Homo sapiens: one gene and its partner. The protein of the gene in region 1 interacts with the protein of each later gene in a pairwise test. Each region holds a gene or a part of one and is shown on either strand. Other genes may lie near its edges.

Region 1 (8,216 bases):
CTATGCCCAGCTAATTTTTTTTTTTTTTTTGAGACGGAGTCTCGCTCTGTGGCCCAGGCTGGACTGCAATGGTGTGATCTCTGCTCACTGCAGCCTCTGCCTCCCGGGTTCAAGCGATTCTTCTGCCTCAGCCTCCCGAGTAGCTGGGATTACAGGCACCCGCTACCGTGCCCAGCTAATTTTTTTGTGTGTGTTTTTAGTAGAGATGGGGTTTCACCATTAGCCAGGATGGCCTTGATCTCCTGACCTCATGATCCGCCCGCCTCGGCCTCCCAAAGTGCTGGGATTACAGGCGTGAGCCACTGCGCCCGGCTATTTTTTTGAAACGGAGTTCTGCTTTTGTTGCCCAGGCTGGAGTGCAATGGTGCAATCTCGGCTCACTGCAACCTCCACTTCCCTGGTTCAAGCGATTCTCCTGCCTCAGCCTCCCAAGTAGCTGGGATTACATGCATGTGCCACAACACCTGGCTGATTTTTGTATTTTTTAGTAGAGACGGGGTTTCACCATGTTGGTCAGGCTGATCTCAAACTCCTGACCTCAAGTGATCCATCCGCCTCGGGCTCCCAAAGTGCTGGGATTACAGGTGTGTGAGCCACTGCACCTGGCCCCATTCATTTCCCCACAAAATCACATACTACCTCTCAACATTGCTGCACCCCCATTTCCCCTCCCCTGTGAAGAAGGCAGCTACATAAGCATCTGGACCACGTTGGGTTATTAGGTCATCGTTCTCCTGTGGTTTCCTTATGCTTGTACATGTGACATAAATTTTGTACACATTTTTCTCCTATTAATTTGCCAATTGTCAGTTCCTTTTTGGGGAGCCTTTATAGGGCTAGAGAGCAGAAAGGAAGCTTTCCCTTGGCCCTACAGCTCCTTGAGGTCGGCTGTTGACTCTTTTCTTCATTGCTGTCTCTTCAGCGTCTAGAATGGTACCTCCAATGTAGAGATGCTTGATAAACGTGTTGAGCCGGGCACAGTGGCTCACGCCTGTAATCCTAGCACTTTGGGAGGCTGAGGGTGGATCAAGAGGTCAGAGTTAGAAACAAGTCTGGCCAACATGGTGAAACCCTGTCTCTACTAAAAATACAAAAATTAGCAAGGCGTGGTGGTGGATGTCTGTAATCCCAGCTACTTGGGAGGCTGAGGCAGGAGAATCGCCTGAACCCGGGAGGTGGAAGTTGCAGTGAGCCAAGAAAGGGCAGCAGAGCAAGACCCCATCTTGAAAAAAAAAAAAAAAACAAGCAAACAAAAAACAAAAACAAACAAAAAAACATGTGTTGAGTTGCTTTCTGTTTAGTAGCAGAAAGCTCTGGAAGGGCTTTGGACATTCACGCGTGCAGGCCCGGGAACGGGATGAGGTTTAAGGCAACTTCATCTAGAGTTTAAAAGGGGCAGGTAGGCCCACAGCTGGCACGTGGGTTAAATGTAAAGTGGCTCAAACAGGATCTGATAAGGCAGAAGCAGAGATGGGGGCCTGGTGTCTCACTGCCTTCACGTTCTTCCTTCTGCCTCAGTCCCCACATGAGAGTGCACCCTAGAGGTGCCAGCATTAGCGATAGGGCAGCTTTCCTTGTTTCTGGGATGGACAGAAAATGGGCCTTGAGACCCCTCCCATCATAGGAAAGCATCTCTTGCACTCTGGAGACTGAGGACTTGCTATAGTGGAACAAGAAGCAGTCTTCGGCAATGGAGGAGATGCTGGATCTCCATACAGGCAGGGTGGGTGCAACGGAGTGGAGCTGTGGCAAATGTGGGTGCCTCTGTCCTGAGGGTCCTGGATGTGTCATGCCTGGGAACATGAGGGCGTTCTTCCAAGGTGCCCATCTCGACCTCTCTGAGCTGCCATCTTTGACTTCCTGTGTTTGGTCACAGACTAGGGGTGGTCTGTCCCTAAACAGAAGAAGACAAGCAAGGATTAGAGAGGAGAAAGAGCTAGAGAGAGAGCTTGGGAGAGATGTAGGGACAAGGAAAGAAGAGGCAGAAGGAAAAAGGCATGGAGGGAAGGAATATAAAAAAAAACCCCTTAGGCCAGGCATGGTGGCTCACGCCTGTAATTCCCGCACTTTGGGAGGCCAAGGTGGGTGGATCACCTGAGGTCATTTCAAGACCAGCCTGGCCAACATGGTGAAACCCCATCTTTACTAAAAATACAAAAATTAGCCAGGCATGGTGGTGGGTGCCTGTAATTCTAGCTACTCCGGAGGCTGAAGCAGGAGAATCGCTTGAACCCTGGAGGCAGAGGTTGCAGTAAGCTGAGATCAGGCCACTGCACTCCAGCCTGGGTGACAGAGCGAGAATCTATCTCAAAAAAAAAAAGAAAAAAGAAAAAAAGGCCGGGTGTGGTGGCTCACGCCTATAATCCTAGCACTTTGGGGGGCTGAGGAAGGTGGATCACAAGGTCAGGAGATTGAGACCATCCTGGCCAACATGGTGAAACCCCATCTCTAGTAAAATAGAAAAAATTATCTGGGTGTGGTGGTGCGCACCTGTAGTCCCAGCTACTCAGGAGGCTGAGGCAGGGGAATTGCTTGAACCCTGGAGGCAGAGGTTGAAGTGAGTCGAGATCGCGCCACTGCACTCCAGCCTGGCAACAGAGCAAGACTCCATCTAAAAAAAAAGAAAGAAAGAAAGAAAGAAAAATCCTCCCCAGAGCAGGGAAAGATGAAGACATAAAGGGAAGGAGAGTCACCAGGAAAGAGAGAGGGAGAGAGACACAAAACAAAATGGCTGGAATGAGGTGAAAGTTATAGTAGCAGGATGTGCTGACACTGACCTTGGAGAAAAAGAGAGGGGAAGGGAGGAGTGAACGTGGAATCTTTGGCTGCTGTTCTGTTTCACTCCCAGAACTCACCACCCTGGATTCCCCCCATTTCCAGATCCTCAGGCGGGACTGCCTTTGCTATCTGGGATGAGTCATTGGCCCCAGATGGTAAACCTGTGAGGGGTGGGGTGCTCTGAATGCCTGACTAGTCATTTATAATTGAGAGCACTTATTCCAGCCCCTTCTGGTCCTCCATCCTTCCCTCTTCTTGGACCTCCTGATTCAGAGAGGTCAGAGGGCCAGTCCAGGAGGGGTCAGGCACTAGGTCCCTGGAGTCAGTCTTAGGGATTTTAGGCAGAGAGGAATCAGTCCTGAAAATGAAGGGCATACAGAGAAAAAAAAAACTATGACATCACCCCTGGGGGTGTTACAGACCTAAGAAAGAAGCAATGGCCCTGGGCGGCCTACAGCCCCAGGAAGATTCAGCCATGGTACCCAGGAGACTTGAGGGCCCAAAGCCCAGAATTACCCCCAGAGGAACACCTGTAGACCTTCGGATCCTTAGCTTTGCACTTCCCATTGGACTGACTCTGTTTCCTGTGGGGCAATAGGCACGTGTTCACTGTGCACCTGCAGCCCCAGTCATCCTTCTCAGAGAGAAATGGTTTGGGAAGTGTTTGGCATATTGGGGATAAATAGATGAGTGGATAGAAAAAAAAATGCAGGCCAGGCACAGTGGCTCACGCCTGTAATCCCAGCACTTTGGGAGGCCGAGGTGGGCGGATCACGAGGTCAAGAGATCGAGACCATCCTGGCAAACATGGCGAAACCCTGTCTCTACTAAAATTACAAAAATTAGCTGGGCGTGGTGGCGCATGCCTGTAATCCCAGCTACTCGGGAGGCTGAGGCAGGAGAATCGCTTGAACCTGGGAAGCAGAGATTATAGTGAGCCGAGATCGCGCCACTGCCCTCCAGCCTGAGGGATAGAGCAAGACTGTGTCTCCAAAAAGAAGAAAGAAAAAAAAGCAATTACAGCAAAATATTAACCATAGTAGAATCTATACAGTGGTTATATAAGTGTCCACTATACAATTCTTTTTTTTTTTTTCCTTTTTTTGAGACTTGATGTTTCGATCATGGCTCACTGCAACTTTGACCTCCTCAGCTCAAGTGATCCTCTTGCCTCAGCCTCCTGACTAGCTGGGATCACAGGTGTGCACCACCATGCCTGGCTAATTGTTTTATTTTTTGTAGAGACGAGATCTCCCTATGTTGCCCATGTTGGTCCTGAACTCCTGAGCTTAAGCAGTCCTCCTGCTTTGACCTCTCAAAGTGCCGGGATTACAGGCATGAGCCACTGCACCCAGTCTTGCTATACGATTCTTTTGTTTTTTTTTTTTTTTTTTTTGAGATGGAGTCTCACTCTGTCGCCCAGGCTAGAGTGCAGTGGAGTGATCTCAGCTCACTGCAACCTCTGCCCCTCAGGTTCAAGTGATTCTCCTGCCTCAGTCTCCTGACTAGCTGGGATCACAGGCACCTGCCATCACACCCAGCTACTTTTTGTATTTTTAGTACAGATGGGGTTTCGCCATGTTGGCCAAGCTGGTCTCAAACTCCTGACCTCAGGTGATCCAGCTGCCTCAGCTTCCCAAAGTGTTGGATTATGGGTGTGAGCCACTGGGCCCAGCCACTGTACAATTCTTTAAACTTTTATATGTGTTTGGATTTTTCATAATATTAGAAAAGGGAAAGAAAAAAATGTCTGGCAAATAGTCAGCACTCGTAAGTATAAGATTTTGGGAATATATTCCCTTCTGGGAGAATCCACATTTCGAATGCCTGGGAAGGGCTCTGTTTGTCCTGACAGATGGCAGATTTCAGGTGAGAGCACCTACTAAGCCTAGAGGTGATAAGCTACTTTGCCCACCTAGAGCTGCTGGTGGTGACCTTAAGTTTACTATGTTTCTCCTGGTATACGGCACTTGGCCCAGAGTGGACTCCAGCTTGCCACCTGTCACCCAGGCTGGAGTGCAGTGGCGTGATCTTGTCTCACTGCAGCCTCAACGTCCTGGGCTCAGGCGATCTTCCCTACCTCCCTCCTGATTAGTTGAGGCTACAGGTGCTCGTCACCATGCCCGGCTAATTTTTGTTTTTGTTTTTTGTTTTGGTAGAGATGGGGTCTCACACTCTTGCCCAGGCTGAGCTAGAACTCCTGGCCTCAAGCGATCTGCCTCTGCCTCCCAAAGCATTGTAATGACAGGTGTGAGTCACCATGCCCAGCCAGGAACTCAGAGAATCTTACCCTATGCTGTAGTATCTGTTGACTATGGGGTAGAGGCAGGATAAGGTGTTCCAGACCCTGCCTGACACCTGATCCGAAGAGGTTGCTCATGTTTGCTCAGGAGGTGAGGTTCACACAATAAAGGGCAGGAGGAGGGCTTGGACCTGGTATAAAACATCTGGAAGTTTCCAGGGGGCTGCTTTGCATCTGAAACTGTCAGGTGAGGGGTGACAGAGATGCCTGAATCTGAGTTGGGGGGGAATTCAAATCTGAGCTGGCGAAGAGGATGCCTGGAAGGAATGGCAGGAAAGACTTGAGTTAATTGGCGCTTCTGGGTCTGCAGTAATCTTAGGTGCAAAGCTGTCTAGGTCTCTGCTGAAGGACTGGGGACACCTGGGATGTTCAGGAGAATAGAAATGGCCAGATGTGTGTTAGTGGAGAAAAGAATAGTGACACATAGACCAGGCACCTGGGGTCTAATATCTTGAGCTGGTCCCGACTCCTTCTGCAACTTCTCTGTCTGTCCTAGTTCCACCAGCACTGCTTGGATACTGGTGCTGGCACAGTTCCTTCTGTCACCAACTTTGCTCCCCAGGTAACATAGAGGCAACTCTAAAATGCTTCTTTCCTTGAGACCAGGTGGATGCCAGGGATTTAAACCATGCTCCAGGTGCCCCATAATCCAGGCCAATTCACCACAGATGATGAGGCTTTCTTTGCTCAGCCTCTGGGCTCAGTAAACTCAGCCATCTCTTTGCTTGGGAGAGGTCCTCTACTCCCTCCTTAGAAAACTCGTTTCCTGGCTATGGCCATACCAACCCAAATGTACCTGGGCTTGGCTGACTTCAGAAAACTTTTCTGCTTTGTGCCAGGATGGAATAAGGCTTAATCCAGATAGTTAGAGTTCATCTTCAGGCCTGAGAGAAAAAGAGGAGGGCTTGGCTACAGCCAGACCAGGGAGAGCTGGAGGGGTCAGGGACATTGAAGGTAGCATCAGAGAGGAACAGGACTACAGGCTATGGACAGTCCTTTCTAAGCTCAAGACTGGGTCTGCTAGGTCTAAGTTGAAGGACGAAGAAGGCTTGGTCTGAGCTGCAGGTCAGGAGTGCCTGGGTCAATCAAGTCAACAAGGAAGAAGGTGAATCTTCATTTGCTCTTTTCTTCCCACTCCAGCCCCAGAATGTTGACAGTCGCTCTCCTAGCCCTTCTCTGTGCCTCAGCCTCTGGCAATGCCAGTAAGTGAGATACCAGGAGCCTGGTATTGGGGACTTGGGAAGGCAGCCTTGGGCACTGCTGTTGGCCAAGGCTTTTGGAGGTTGGCTTGGGGTGGGGAGCTGAGTTGTCGGAGGAACAGGGGTGATGCAGAGAAACTGAACTCCTGGAAGATTTCTCCCTCCAACTCCTGCTTGCCCCTCCAGTTCAGGCCAGGTCTTCCTCCTATAGTGGAGAGTATGGAGGTGGTGGTGGAAAGCGATTCTCTCATTCTGGCAACCAGTTGGACGGCCCCATCACCGCCCTCCGGGTCCGAGTCAACACATACTACATCGTAGGGTAAGATTCTTTGAATTCCTGGCTGGGCGCGGTGGCTCACATCTGTCATTACAATGCTTTGGGAGGCAGAGGCAGATCGCTTGAGGCCAGGAGTTCTAGCTCAGCCTGGGCAAGATGCCAGGGATGCCAGGGATTTAAACCATGCTCCAGGTACCAAGACCCCATCTCTACCGAAGAAAAACAAAAAAATTAGCCAGGCATGGTGGTGAGTACCTGTAGCCTCAACTACTCAGGAGGGAGAGGCGGGAGGATTGCCTGAGCCCAGGATGTTGAGGCTGCAGTGAGCCAAGATCATGCCACTGCACTCCAGCCTGGGTGACAGAGTCTCTTTGTTGGCAAAATGAGTTGAAGTTCCCTGTAGGATCTTCCAGGGTTCACCCAGGCTTCACAGTCTGTAGGACTAGCCAGAGACCTCTCATCCCTATCATCACCTTTCTTTCTCCTTCCTTCCTCCCCTCTTCCTCAGTCTTCAGGTGCGCTATGGCAAGGTGTGGAGCGACTATGTGGGTGGTCGCAACGGAGACCTGGAGGAGATCTTTCTGCACCCTGGGGAATCAGTGATCCAGGTTTCTGGGAAGTACAAGTGGTACCTGAAGAAGCTGGTATTTGTGACAGACAAGGGCCGCTATCTGTCTTTTGGGAAAGACAGTGGCACAAGTTTCAATGCCGTCCCCTTGCACCCCAACACCGTGCTCCGCTTCATCAGTGGCCGGTCTGGTTCTCTCATCGATGCCATTGGCCTGCACTGGGATGTTTACCCCAGTAGCTGCAGCAGATGCTGAGCCTCCTCTCCTTGGCAGGGGCACTGTGATGAGGAGTAAGAACTCCCTTATCACTAACCCCCATCCAAATGGCTCAATAAAAAAAATATGGTTAAGGCTAGTCTGTGTGGGGGCATCTGTGGCTGGGATATCTGCCTCCTGACTTAGCCGGGGACGTGCAAATCTCACTTCTGGCTGGCTTTGGACATCTGTCTGGAAGATGGGAAGATGAGGGAGAGGTATGTAAGAATCCTGGGCTTTGTGCTATAATTTATCAAGAGGAGATGAGATTCTGGCTTGCATCAACGCTCTTCAAGGACAGCTCCTTGGAACATTGATCCAAACTGGAGTCATGGGTCTGAGGGCAAGGCCTAGTTGTGGCTTACACCAAAACCCCAGATGTCCCACTCTCCAGCTCTCCTCACCCCTGGTCCTCCCCTTGAGAAAGTGGTGAACTCACTTGCTGTGTGTGGGTGGCCAGGACCATTAGCCTTTGTTCTTTCCCAGAACCCACCTGACTCCTGAAACTTAGCTGAAGTCTGTGCCCGAGGACCCTGCCCTGTTACCAGGCCCAGTTCCTCCTCACCTCTACCCATGAGCCCCGGTGTCCTGCTAAGCCCTCTCAGATCTGGGATTCCTCCTTCCTCAGGAAGCCACCACCTTCTCAGCAGTGGAAACCCTGCCCACACTATGCTCTTAGGCTTTAGCCATCAGAAGGTTACAGTGGACTGCGGGAGGCTGACACTAGGCTGAACTCATTAAGGAATGAATGGGAGGTGAGAAGACACAGGCAGCAAGAATCGAGTGTTTCAAGAAGTTTGGCTGTGGTTTGCCAGAAATAGGCAAGTCAGTTTTCG
Region 2 (7,578 bases), on another chromosome or scaffold:
ACTGCTCCATGTGCCAGTGGCCAAGCGGCATCCAGGGCCGTGTGAGGGCAGCCTGCAAGCCCAGCAACCACATGCGACTCCCACCCCCTCGCTGAGCACCTGCTCCGGGCTCTGCCGGGAGACCCTCCTGTGCACTCTTGTGCACCTTCACCTGGAAGTATGCTGTGTCACTGGAGCCCTCACCCTGCCTAGCCCCTGCCATGGGGACAGCCGTAGAACAGAGGCTGTGGATGTGACAGGGTTCCTACACTTTGGCATTCAGAGCATGGAGTTACAACTTGCCATGGTTGCACTGTGTATGGCCAAGGAATTTAGAACCAGCGTGCACTCAGACATGGGCTGGCTGGACTTGGGGTCATCTGTGTATTACCTTTATGAATGGAGACTAGCCAGTGGCCTAACAGGACATTCCCACCATCTCCTAGTACTGTCACTACTGTAGCCAACACACAGAGAGAGGCTAAGGGATACTGCATAGGGACATTCCTCAGCTGCTAGCAGCAGGCTCTGTGGCTGAACATGAGGGCTTCTCCGCAGCAGACAGACAGACCACCTGAGGGGCCCATGTCAGCTGAAGATAAGGTGGAGGACAGCGGTGCCTGCCCAGGGTCCCCAGGAGAACGGTGTGCTCCACGCCTTTGCTACCCACTAGGAAGGCCTGTCTGACCCAGGGCTTCAGGGATAACTTAGAATCTTCACTACTGTGTAAACCATGCCCAAGCTTCAGTGATTATTATTCCCTAAACTTGGGCATAGTAGAAATATAACAATGTTTCTCCTTGTTTTTTAATTTTTATTTTTTTTGTTTTATTTTTAGACAGGCTGGAGTGCAGTGGCACCACCATAGCTCATTGCAGCCTCGACCTCCTGGCCTCAAGTGATCCTCCTACCCCAGCCTCCCGAGTACCTGGGACTGCGGGTGCATGCCACCATGCCCAGCTAATTTTTTTATTTTAATTGTTGTAGATGCAAGGTCTCACTATGTTGTCCAGGCTAGTCTTGAAATCCTGGCCTCAAGCAATTCTCCTGTCTCAGCCTCCCAAAGTGCTGGAATTGCAGGTGTGAGCCACCACACCTGGGTGTTGCTTCTTTAAAATATTTTCATTGGCCGGGCTCGGTGGCTCACGCCTGCAATCCCAGCACTTTGAGAGGCCAAGGCGGTCAGATCACCTGAGGTCAGGAGTTTGAGACAAGCCTGGCCAACATAGCGAAACCCCGTCTCTACTAAAAATACAAAAAAAAAAAAAAAATTAGCTGGGCATGGTGGCGGGTGCCTATAATTCCAGCTGCTTGGGAGGCTGAGGCAAGTGAATCACTTTGAGCCCAGGAGTCAGAGGTTGCAGTGAGCTGAGATTGCACCACTGTACTCCATCCAGCCTGGGTGACAGAGTGAGACTCAATCTCAAAAACAAAAACAAAATATATATATATATACACACACACACACACATATATATATATACACACACACACACATATATACACACATATTTATATACACATATATATACACATATATACACACACACACATATATATACACACACACACATATATATATATATATTCATTGTCTTCAGTTATACACACACATGACTGGAGTCCAACACATTCGCAGGGTGCACGTTGGAAAACCAGCAGGTGACCACCACCTTGTCTGCTGTAGCCAGTCACCTGTGCTTGTTTCCATGTCCCCCAGAAGCTTGCTTCCACTTTTCCACCCCCTGCCACAAGTGAGAATTTGGGACTCCCTCAGACATACAACGTTCCCGTCCCCCCAGCCCCCCACCCATCCCCCAGGAGGCTGAGGTGGGAGGATCGCTTGAGCCCAGGAGTTCAGCTTTCCAACAGACTCTAGGCTTCAGGTTGGATAAGGCCTTGGTTTACTCTGATTTGTGAACTGGACCCCTCGCTGAGGCTTGTTGTCCATTGCGATGATCTTTTCCTTTCCTTTGCCTACGGTTAACATTGGTCCTGATGATTAGTTTGTCTGTGTTCTGTGACCTCATTATTCATTCAAGCCCAGGCCCTTCTCCAGTCATCTGAACCTGTTGCCCGGCATCTGCCAGAGGAGGCCCCCCCACCAGCCTCCCACAGCTCCATCCTCGCTGGGGCCTGGTGCCTCTGGGGCTTCCTCCCCTGTCTGCTGGGCTGGGCCTTCTGGTTCTGGGATCCCTGATCTGCCTTTCTCTTGCTTTACTCTCTGTGTGTTCAGGGGCTTACTGCCCAGCTGCTTCCTATAAAAGAGGATGTGAGCTGTAACTTTGGAGCGTTTGAGCACCTGGGAGTGTCTTTATTCTGTTTTTACTCTTGCTTGATCCATTGTAGGGACCAGCACCCCCAGGGGGAGCTGTTCTCCTTCAAAGTTGGGGGTCGCTTCGTTCCCTGGGCCTCCTGCCTCAGGCGCTGCTGCAGAGCAGGTGCCCCTGCTGACACTGACCCGTGATGGGTCCCGATTTTGCTTTTTCTGTTTGGCTTTGCTTTCCTCTCTGAAAGTTTATAGGATCCTCTGCACCCAATTTGCTGAAATTTCACCATGATCTATGCTTGCAGCTAAACTGCAGGCTGTTTTCATGCATTGTGCCAAGCCTTGGTGGACACTGGAAATCTCTGCTTCCATTCTGGGAAATCGTCTTTCCTGATTGCTCCTACCCACTTTCCTCTGTTTTCTCCCGTTCTTCCCGAACTGCCTGTGTCCCAGCATTGGCCCCTCTGGAGTGCAACTCTCATTATCCTCTGTTCTCCCCTATATTCCAGCTATTTGCCTTCTCATTCCACTTCATGGAAGATTCCATTTGCTCTCCCAACCTTTCTTTTTAAGTCTGTCATTTTGCTTTCTTATTTTTAATTTCCAAGAGCTCTTTCTTTTTTCCAGTTACCTCTTTTTTGGGACATCCTATTCTTATTTTAGTGATGGAAGATTTGTAATCTCTGAACCTAATAGTTGTTGTCAAATTTTTTTCTCCTGGGATAATTTTTGTTCTTCCAAATCGCTTTCCTCTGTCTCTGTCTCTCTCATGGTACAGACTTCTTCCAGTCCCGAAAATCTAACACTTGAGGGGCCTCGGGGCCTTGGTGCATGGCCCTGTCCCTTGCACTCTGACCGTCCTCTGTCCCACTTCGCTGGTACAGCCCCTTTCTCACCCCTTTCTTTCAGAGTAGCCTGGGAGGACCCCAGGGTGCAGGGAGGGTTTCACCTTTAAACCTTCCAAGAGGTAGGGGGAAAACCTGCTTTCTACCAACTGCTGTAACAAAACAGTTGAAGTTGTCACATGGAAACCATTTAAACAGCCATATTCTGTCATATTAGTAGTAAAGTTTCCCATGCCAAAGGCGATGGCCACACACAGCATGTCATGACTCAAGAGTTGAGCACCAGGTTTGGGCGAGGTGGCCCTGGGATTACACCTGTAATCCCAGCACTTCTGAAGCCCAAGGTAGGAGGATTACTTGGGGCCAGGAGTTGGAGACCAGCCTGGACAACATAGCGAGACCCCATCTCTATAAGTATAAAATAAATTAGCCAGGCATGGATTATTCCGAGTGGTCCCAGCTACTCAGGAGGCTGAGGTGGAGGATCGCTTGAGCCTGGGAGTTTGGGACTGCAGTGAGCCATGATGGCGACTGGTGACAGTCTGAGACTCTGTCTCTAAAAACAACAACAAACAAAAAGCTGAGCATCATTCCTCTAGCTATTTAATCTGGAAGTTTTCAAGCACCTTTGCCATGCAGATGCTTGGCAGAATAAACATAGAGCACCTCCTTTATTAAAAGAGTACCCCAGGCGTCTCCAGCGGCAGCACTGCATTAAATGGGTCTAGGACACCATATATATTTGAATATCTTTCTCTGGCATCAGTATCAGCTACCATGCCACTCCTGCCACACATGCAGACACATGCGCATGCACTCACACAGGTTCACACACTCACACAGGTGCACACACAGGTGCACACCCTCACAGGTTCACACATACAGATGCACACCCTCACACAGGTGCACACCCTCACACAAGTTCTCACACAGGTGCACACCCTCACACAAGTTCACACACACAGGTGCACACCCGTGCATGCGCTCACACACGGGCACACACTCACCCTGTGCTGACCTGAATGGATGCCGTCAGTCTCTTAGGGAGGCTCTGTGCCTGTTGGAGGCGTGAATTTCAGTGGAAGCCACACAGCAACTGGAACTAGAACCTGGGCATTGATTGGATGTCACGCCCCACACTCTCCTTTCCCCATAGGACTTTGTGGTTGGCCTCTCCATCCTGCTGCGGGGCACAGTCCACGAGAAGCTCAAGTGGGCCTTTAATCTCTACGACATTAACAAGGATGGCTACATCACCAAAGAGGTAGTAGGGGGCTGGGGGCAGGGATTGTCCCCTCCTCCCCTCCTGCTGCTCCACCCCTCCCGCCGCTCTTCCTCTCCCTGCTCCTGCTGCCCACCTGTCTTCTCCCGCTGTCCATCCAGAGACTGGCCCCAGGGACAGCAGCCAGTGGGCTCTCCTCTCCTGGGCTCGGTCCTGGACACCCCGGTGTGGAGTGTGGGTTCAGGTACCCTGTACCACACATCTCGGTCCAGCTCAGCAAGTGTTCTCGGTCATACTGTCTTACACAAAAGGCCTCGGGGAGATTTAAGTGGAGAAGCCAGAGGTCCTGGCCTTGGCCCCCATCAAGTGAAGGGGGCAGTGCGGTCCCTTAAGGCATGGGTGGAGAGGGGAGCCCTCGCACATGGGCCCACAGACAGGTTTTGTTTGGTCCAAGCACTTTTTCTGCTGCCGCGTCACATTTTGGAGATAAGCACATAGCAATCCATCTCCCACTTCTCTGGGAGATGAGCTTCCCCTAGAGTCAGAAGCTCGCTCTGGGTGCCCTGGAAGCGGACAGGCTTCTCTCTCCAGCTCGTCCGGCCCCTCGCACTCACTGCCTTGGAGGTGCCCTGCACCCTTGGATGCCGCCCGCTCCCTTTGGGCCCTCACAGCCACCCCGGCCTTGCAGCAGGCTCATGCCAGCCTCCCCCTCCAGGAGATGCTGGCCATCATGAAGTCCATCTATGACATGATGGGCCGCCACACCTACCCCATCCTGCGGGAGGACGCGCCGGCGGAGCACGTGGAGAGGTTCTTCGAGGTGAGCGAGCGCCAGCCCTGCCTAGGGAGGGGAGCCTGGCAGAGGAAGGGGCTCTCGCTTTTGGGGCCACCCCGGGCAAGTGGCTTGCCCCTCTGAGCCTCCCTACTCCCCATGAGGAGGTTAAACTTGCCCCTCCAGTCTGGCTGGTTGTCAGAACCCCTGAGAAGTGAACTACACCACTGCTCTGCCCTGTGGACCTCATCTGGGGGCCAGAGCTGGGGATCCTGAGGCAGCTGACCCTGGGCCGGAGCTCCATGCCTCCTGAGAGCTGTGTGGCTCCTCCAGGAAGACGCTCTGGGAGAGGAGCAGGTTGGGGGCCTTCACCTGTATGCATGGCGGCTGCAGGGGCTGCAGGCTTTGCCTCCTACTTGCTGGGGCCACTAGACATGGGCCATCCTGTGACTCAGTTGCTCCCTCTGCCCTGGCTGCCTCTCAGGGAGGTGAGGCGGTCAGATGAGCATGGGGACAAATTCTGGGAAACCCAAGCCCAGGAGGGCTCAGGGAATTGGCCTAGGGGAGCAGTGGGGAGATGCTTGGAGCCTCAGCAGTTGGTTGGGAGGTGGCTATGAAGGGTGGATTATGTGGCCTGGATCCAGAGTAGTCACAGGGGACAAGTTAGAGTGGAGGGAGCCCACCCGCCCATCCACCCACCCGCCCATCCACCCACCCATGACTTCTGCGTCCTCAGGCCAGGGGCGGGGCTGTCTCTGCTGGGGCACAGACTCACTTTGGGCATGGCTTGGGTTGCAGAAAATGGACCGGAACCAGGATGGGGTAGTGACCATTGAAGAGTTCCTGGAGGCCTGTCAGAAGGTAGGTGGCACGGGAGGCTGGGCCACAGTTCTCTGCAGGCTCTACACGGAGGTGGGTGGTTGGCAGCGTCTGCCCCTTCCCTCACCCCAGTCCCACCCCTGCCAGTCCAGGATGTGGCAGCTGTCCTTGGCCCCTTGCCACCTCCTGGACAGCCCCAAGCTCCACTTGCCCTCTTGTCTGAGTCTCCTCCTCCCCACCCACCCCTGCAGCCCACAGCATCCCCCCACTACCCCCACACCCTCCCTCAGCCCAGTCCCTGGAGAACCTCAAGTTAGGGGCAGACATGGGGCCAGCCAGAGGGAGAGGGTCACCGTGGGGAGGCACCAGAGCTTCCGCAGTGTTGCTGCTGGCCCTTCCAGAGAGCACCTCAGGGGGCAGGATGCTGGGCCTCCAGCGCCTCTATTGCCCCACTCCCAGAGCAGTCCTGGTTAGCGCCCACCTCCTCTGGAGGCCAGCCGGGATCGCCTTCATCAGCTCATCCCAGATGGGCTTGCAGTCAGGAGTGGGGTTGAAGACAGGCTGTGCCTCACCAGCTGGGGACCTCGGACCAGCTACTTCACCTCCCTGTCCCCCAGCTCCCTGCACCCAATAAGACAGACAGACAGGCAGTCGCTGCAGGCTCCGAGTCCCTGGCGGGAATCTGCTCAAGGGGGTCGGATTTGGAGCCCACCCAGCACCTGAAGGCCTCCCTTCCTCTCTCCATGCAGGATGAGAACATCATGAGCTCCATGCAGCTGTTTGAGAATGTCATCTAGGACACGTCCAAAGGAGTGCATGGCCACAGCCACCTCCACCCCCAAGAAACCTCCATCCTGCCAGGAGCAGCCTCCAAGAAACTTTTAAAAAATAGATTTGCAAAAAGTGAACAGATTGCTACACACACACACACACACACACACACACACACACACAGCCATTCATCTGGGCTGGCAGAGGGGACAGAGTTCAGGGAGGGGCTGAGTCTGGCTAGGGGCCGAGTCCAGGAGCCCCAGCCAGCCCTTCCCAGGCCAGCGAGGCGAGGCTGCCTCTGGGTGAGTGGCTGACAGAGCAGGTCTGCAGGCCACCAGCTGCTGGATGTCACCAAGAAGGGGCTCGAGTGCCCCTGCAGGGGAGGGTCCAATCTCCGGTGTGAGCCCACCTCGTCCCGTTCTCCATTCTGCTTTCTTGCCACACAGTGGGCCGGCCCCAGGCTCCCCTGGTCTCCTCCCCGTAGCCACTCTCTGCCCACTACCTATGCTTCTAGAAAGCCCCTCACCTCAGGACCCCAGAGGGACCAGCTGGGGGGCAGGGGGGAGAGGGGGTAATGGAGGCCAAGCCTGCAGCTTTCTGGAAATTCTTCCCTGGGGGTCCCAGGATCCCCTGCTACTCCACTGACCTGGAAGAGCTGGGTACCAGGCCACCCACTGTGGGGCAAGCCTGAGTGGTGAGGGGCCACTGGGCCCCATTCTCCCTCCATGGCAGGAAGGCGGGGGATTTCAAGTTTAGGGATTGGGTCGTGGTGGAGAATCTGAGGGCACTCTCTGCCAGCTCCACAGGGTGGGATGAGCCTCTCCTTGCCCCAGTCCTGGTTCAGTGGGAATGCAGTGGGTGGGGCTGTACACACCCTCCAGCACAGACTGTTCCCTCCAAG

The links. Proteins that work in one complex are often made in the same cells at the same time.
Region 2: the proteins of ZG16 (region 1) and KCNIP3 interact in binary tests that used the Homo sapiens proteins (3 or more experiments, as listed by UniProt).

What each region holds. Positions count from the first base shown.
Region 1 is NC_000016.10:29,773,040-29,781,255, forward strand, and holds the start of ZG16 (zymogen granule membrane protein 16 precursor), read left to right. Parts: upstream 1-5,216; 5' UTR 5,217-5,267; intron 5,268-6,220; 5' UTR 6,221-6,227; coding exon 6,228-6,282; intron 6,283-6,465; coding exon 6,466-6,598; intron 6,599-7,064; coding exon 7,065-7,380; 3' UTR 7,381-8,216. UniProt on the Homo sapiens protein: May play a role in protein trafficking. May act as a linker molecule between the submembranous matrix on the luminal side of zymogen granule membrane (ZGM) and aggregated secretory proteins during granule formation in the TGN.
Region 2 is NC_000002.12:95,377,347-95,384,924, forward strand, and holds part of KCNIP3 (calsenilin), read left to right. Parts: intron 1-4,249; coding exon 4,250-4,357; intron 4,358-5,030; coding exon 5,031-5,135; intron 5,136-5,885; coding exon 5,886-5,948; intron 5,949-6,655; coding exon 6,656-6,703; 3' UTR 6,704-7,578. UniProt on the Homo sapiens protein: Calcium-dependent transcriptional repressor that binds to the DRE element of genes including PDYN and FOS. Affinity for DNA is reduced upon binding to calcium and enhanced by binding to magnesium. Seems to be involved in nociception.